Linked DNA regions of Homo sapiens. The protein of the gene in region 2 purifies or fractionates together with the protein of the main gene of each other region. This does not show direct contact. Each region holds a gene or a part of one and is shown on either strand. Other genes may lie near its edges.

Region 1 (3,836 bases), on a different chromosome or scaffold from region 2:
AAAAAAAGTAGCAGTTTAAAACAACAGCTACCCTCCCTCACAAATCTACAGTTGGCTGACCTCTCATGTCTCATGTATGTTTGTGATCAGCTGGCAGGTGGGCTGATTAAGGATGACCTCATCTGAGATGCCTTGTCTCTGTTTTGCATGGTCTGTCATCAGCAGCATGTTACCCTTGGCTTGTTCTCATGTCAGTGGCAGGGTTCCAAATGAGAGAAGTAGTGCATTAGTGCTTTTGAGACCTGGGCTTGGAACTGACCATCACTTTTTCTGTAAGCAAGTTACAAGGCCAGCCCAGATTTAATGGTTGAGGAAATAGACTTTACTTCCTGATGGGAAAAATTACAAAGCCATATTGCAAAAGGCATCAAATATAATGAGTGGAGAATTGCAGTCTAATACAATGAACAAGGGAAAGAAGTTATTTAATCATTGGGGGTCTCAAAATTTCCTCAAGAAGTAAAAGAATAGAACCTACATTGTAGATTTATCAAATCAGATCATGCTTCTAAAACTCAGCACAATGTTTGGCACAATAACTTTCAACATATGACAGAGAAAATGATTATGATTAATATGATGCACAGACATCGTGTTAGTGGTAAAGATCGCAAACTGATACCAGATGCTAATTTCTGCCACGCAACTTATTAGCTATATAATCTTGGGTAATTTCCTCATCTGTAAAATGTGATTATTACCAAATTCATAGGATTGTTATAAAAATTAAAGCACTTCAAACAGTATTCATAAGTGTTTAATAAAAACAATCTATAACTTAAAAATTACAAATTTATATAGTTAGCCCGTTTTGCATCACTATAAAGGAATAACTGAGGCTGGGTAATTTATAAAGAAAAAAGGTTTGTTTTGGCTTACGGTTCTGCAGGCCATACTAGCACGGCACCAATATTTGCCTGGCCTTTGATGAAGGCCCCAGGAAGGTTACAATCACAATGGAAGGCAAAGGGGGAGCAGACTCTTTTAAGCCACCAGATCTCACACGAACTGAGTGAGAACTCACTCATCACCAGTGGCTCTAAGCCATTCATGAGGGATCATCCACCATGACCCAAACACTTCCCATCAGGCCCCACCTCCACCCCCAACACTGGGGATTACATTTAAACATGAAATTTGAAGGAGACAAACATCTAAACAATGTCATTCTACCCCCAGCCCCCCAAATCTAATGTCTTTCTCACATTGCAAAATATAATCATCCCTTCCCAAAGTCTTAACTCATTCTAGCATCACTCAAAAGTCCTAAGTCTCATTTGAGACTCAAGGTAAGTTCCTGCCGCCTATGAGCCTCTGAAATAAAATATAAGTTATTTATTTCCAAGATACAGTTGGTGGTACAGGCAATAAGTAAAACATTCTTGTCCCAAAAGGGAGAAATTGGCTAAAGAAAGGGGCAACAGGATCCTGGCAAGTCTGAAACCCAGCTGGGAAGACATTAAACTTTAAATACTGGCACTTTGGGAGGCCGAGGCGGGTGATCACGAGGTCAGGAGATCAAGACCATCCTGGCTAACACAGTGAAACCCCATCTCTACTAAAAATACAAAAAAAATTAGCTGGGCATGGTGGCGGGCACCTGTAGTCCCAGCTACTGGGGAGGCTGAGGCAGGGGAATGGCGTGAACCTGGGAGGCAGAGCTTGCAGTGAGCCGAGATCGTGCCACTGCACTCCAGCCTGGGCAACAGAGCAAGACTCCGTCTCAAAAAAAAAAAAAAAAAAGCCCTAACATATTCCTTGATTCCATGTCCCACATCCTGGCACACTGGTGCAAGGGGTGGGCCCTCGAGGCCGTGGGCAGCTCCACTCCTGTGGCTTTGCAGGGTGCGTGGCTTCCCTCATGGTTGAAGTTGAGTGCCTGTGGCTTTTCCAAGCTCAGAGTGCAAGCTGCTGGTGGCTCTACAATTCTCAAGTCTGGAGGGTGGCAGCACCCTTCCCATAGCTCTACTAGGCAGTGTCCTGCTGGGGTCTCTGTGTTGGGGCTCCAACCCCACATTTCAGTACGTACACTATAAGCCTCCCGCTGTACATGCTCTGTATAATTTCCACATACCCCTCAAATGTGGGCAAAACCTGTAAATATCATGGGAAATCATCATGGGAAAAACATCATGGGAGAGTATCTGTATTTGTTTTCTATTACTGAATAATAAATTACCACAAACTTAAAGGCTTAATGTGACCCATTTATTTATTTATTTATTTATGATGGAGTCTCACTCTGTCACCCAGGCTGGAGTGCAGTGGCACGATCTCAGCTCACTGCAACCTCTACCTCCCTGGTTCCAGCTAGTCTCCTGCCTCAGCCTCCCAAGTAGCTGGGACTACAGGTGTCCACCACCACGCTCGTCTAATTTTTGTATTTTTAGTAGAGACGGGGTTTCACCATGTTGGCCAGGCCGGTCTTGAACTCTTGACCTCAGGTGATCTGCCTGCCTCGGCCTCCCAAAGTGCTGGGATTTACAGGTATGAGCCACCACATCCAGCCAATGTGACCCATTATCTCACAGTTCTATATATTAGAAGTCCAGCACAGAACAGATAGATTCTCATACTGAGGATCATGCAAAGCTGAAATCCAGGTGTCAGCCCAGGCTGTGGTTATCATCTGAAGCTTGGAGTACTCTTCTAAGCTGACTCAGATTTTTGGCAGAATTCAGTTCCTTGTGGTTGCAACTGAGGTCCCAATTTTTTTTTCCTGCTTGCTGACAACTGGAAGGTAGGTCTCATCTCCTAGAGGCCACCTTTAGGTTTTAGCCAATGTGGCCCTCTCACATACTTCTTCAAGGCTTACAAGGAGAATTCTTCTTGCAAGGGTTCACTTGATTAGGTCAGGCCCTTTCAACAGTCTCAAAGTGAGTTGTTTAGGAACCTTAACTGCATCTGCCAAATTCCTTCAACTTTGTCATGTAACATAATCTAATAATGGACATATCATTATGGCAGTATCATCAAGGGATATTTTATTTGTGGTTAAATGATTGCTGTGAACACAATCTATAAATATATGACTAATAGGATTTTGTAACTGGCTCTATAAACTTTAAATTTTGTATCATTTTACAATTTACAAAGTGCTTGTATATATTTTGCATCATTTGATTTTCATGACTACCTGTCAGAGAAGCACAGCAGATATTAGCCCAATGTTATTAGTGGCTCACAGCAGCTAAGTGTATGTCCAAAGCTTTACAGCAAATTAGTAGTGGAGTCAGCTGGGCTTCAGATCAGAGTGTTTCCACCCTACATACAGCCCAGGCTCTTTTTGCTAACCCTGTAATTTTCAAACTGTGTTTGGTGATGCTTGAAGGAGATTTCTCAGGGATTACTGTAAGAACTGGGGGTGATACTAATGGGTAGGGCTAAGTGTTGATATGGTGGCTCTATTTTTATATTTTGGAAGTTCAACCCATGCTTTAATAACCACTGTCCTGCAACAGCCTATGCCTTGTTAAAGGTAAAGAAGAATATTTAGGAAAAAAATCAGTTAAAAAAATGGTTGAGATAGGTGTATATAAAAAGTCAAGAGTCTTTTCCAATAAAGTTTTAAGAAGCTGTCATCTCTTGCAGCAGCTGTTGAACCTTTTAAAAAGAAAGAAAAAAACAAAAGAACCACATTATACAGTTGCTTTAAAATATACACTCTGGAAAATATGATGAACCCCACCCCTTTCACTTTTTAAATAAGTATAAAAAATGCATACCTTCTTAATGTCTGGTCTCTTATTTTTCTTTTCATGCAGACATTGACTAGCAACAGAGTACATAGCTTCAACTGAAGTGGAATCAGCATCATTCATCTTTTTATCAATATA
Region 2 (2,602 bases):
AGGCACCTGCAGTCCCAGCTACTCGGGAGGCTGAGGCAGGAGAATGGCATGAACCCGGGAGGTGGAGCTTGCAGTGAGCTGAGATCGCGCCACTGCACTCCAGCCTGGGCGACAGAGCGAGACTCTGTCTCAAAAAAAAAAAAAAAAATTCTTCTTGTTGTAATTTATTGTTGTTGCAATTTTTGTTTGTTGTAATTTCTAGGGTAACCACTGAAAGAATAAAAACAAAGTATACAATTTTCAAACTAGTGACGAAAAACATAGAATGGTAGAAAGTAAGTAATCAAAAAGAAGGCAAGAAGGAAAAGATCGTATCAAATATGTAGTTAAAAAAATTTAAAAAAACGAAAGATGGAATTGTTGGAACCAATAACACAAAGATAATAGACTTAAACCCAAATATATCAGTGGTAATCTTTTAATAAATATTTATATTTATTATATATATTTATATATTTTAATATATAATATATTAAAATATATATTATATATAAATATATATAAATATATAAATATAAATATAAATAATATATTTATAAATATAATATTTATAATAAAATATATCAGTGGTAATCTTTTAATAAGTAAATATATTTATTAAATATAAAAGGTACACAGTAAATATAAATGAACTAAATGCTTTAGTTAAAAGACAATAAAAATTATGAAATAAAAATGTATACACTTGAAAGTATTTAAAATAAATCTAATTTTCATAATGAATTTTAAGCATTAAGGAGTTTTGTAACTGAATAGTGGAACTCAGAAAGACATCCTATTCAGAAGGATCTCTCATGATAATAGTTTCCTTCACTATTGTAGTATACTGTAGAGTTTCAAGAAAAAAATTAAAGGCCAAAACTGTCTTACATTACCATTGCTGTTTCTGCAATCTTCAACAAACCAAAATTTTCTCTGTAATTGTGAAAAAAGAACTCCTCCTTAAGCATAACTAAAATTTTGCCTTAACCTTATCAAATACCCAAAACTGTAGAAAGAGATAAAGCTGTTAATAGAGACATGGGTATCCCTTTTTATCAGGTCAGGAGGGTAAGTCTCTAATAGAGAGTTCTAGTAACTTCTCAAAAGGTAACTAATGAAGGCCTTCCTTCTAAACCAGATAGGGGGAGATAGAATGCTCTGAGTATTAAAGGCATCTCCTGCAAGCCACTGATACCTTTGTTGACAGAGCACACAGAAGAAAATAGCAGTTACCAGGTTACCTATAGGTGAAATTTGTTTCCACATAAAGAACCACTGGGTCCAGGCTCATGGAGTATGACTCCTGAGAGAAACTCCCGTTACTCTGATCAGTGTGTGTGTGTGTGTGTGTGTGTGTGTGTGTGTGTGTGTGTATTAAAAATGAATATTCCTGGGCTCCCAATAAACTCTCCAGGGTGGGATTACGTTGTCTTTACTGATAATGTTCTTAACTAAAAATTCTTAGTTATAAAATCACAAATTTCGGCCGGGCACGGTGGCGGAGGTGGGTGGATGACCTGAGGTCAGGAGTTGGAGATCAGCCTGATCAACAAGGTGAAACCCCGTCTCTACCAAAAATGCAAAAATTAGCCAGGCGTGGTGGCAGGCGCCTGTAGTCCCAGCTACTCAGGAGGCTGAGACAGGAGAATGGCTTGAGCCTGGGAGGCGGAGGTTGCAGTGAGCCAACAGCAGGCCACTGCACTCCAGCCTGGGCGATGGAGCAAGACTCCATCTCAAAAAAAAAAAAAAAAAAATCACAAATTTCATAGTGAAACTCAAGTTAGAGTACCTGAAGTTTATATACATAAAATAGACATACCTTTGCTATGAAAGCCTGATTTACTCTTTTTTTTTTTTTTTTTTTTTTTTTTCTTGAGACAGAGTCTAGCTCTGTCGCCCAGGCTGGAGTGCAGTGGAGCGATCTCGGTTCACTGCAAGCTCCGCCTCCTGGGTTCACACCATTCTCCTGCCCCAGCCTTCCGAATAGCTGGGACTACAGGCGCCCGCCACCAGGCCCAGCTAATTTTTTGTATGTTTAGTAGAGACGGGGTTTCACCGTGTTAGCCAGGATGGTCTCGATCTCCTGACCTCGTGATCTGCCCGCCTCGGCCTCCCAAAGTGCTAGGATTACAGGCGTGAGCCACCGCGCCCGGCTGAAAGCCTGATTTACTCTTAACTGGATATAACCAGAAAGAGTTCTGCCCACAATGATATATCTGCATTGAATCTAAAACACAGACTTCATCATACATTCTCACCTAAATTTCTCTGATGACCCAGAGTAAGGCAAAAGGTTTAGCATATGAGAGTGAAAGGATTTGAATCTCACTTTCTGTCAAACTTTAGAGCTCTGTTAACCATGGTTAGTATCAACTATGATTTTAGGCAACTTTGCTTATAGTAAAAATAACTCGTTAATTGTTACGTATCTGGATTGGGATGCACTATAAATAAATGGAGTCTTCAAGCTTTAGGCTTTCCTGAGTGTAGTGACTCTTGAAATTGACACATCCCTTGTGGATACCTGGAAGCTGTGTTTATGGAATTGTTAAGAGATATTGGTTCCTTGATGCCTGTGGAGGATCTTATCTCCTTGCACCCAAATTGTACTAGTGGACTG

What was found.
Region 1: the proteins of GTF2H2C (region 2) and IRAK4 fractionate together in Homo sapiens (co-fractionation; one large-scale study listed by BioGRID). This does not show direct contact.

What each region holds. Positions count from the first base shown.
Region 1 is NC_000012.12:43,786,447-43,790,282, reverse strand, and holds the end of IRAK4 (interleukin-1 receptor-associated kinase 4), read right to left. Parts: coding exon 3,726-3,836; intron 3,604-3,725; coding exon 3,568-3,603; 3' UTR 742-3,567; downstream 1-741.
Region 2 is NC_000005.10:69,593,190-69,595,791, reverse strand, and holds the end of GTF2H2C (general transcription factor IIH subunit 2-like protein), read right to left. Parts: 3' UTR 571-2,602; downstream 1-570. UniProt on the Homo sapiens protein: Component of the core-TFIIH basal transcription factor involved in nucleotide excision repair (NER) of DNA and, when complexed to CAK, in RNA transcription by RNA polymerase II.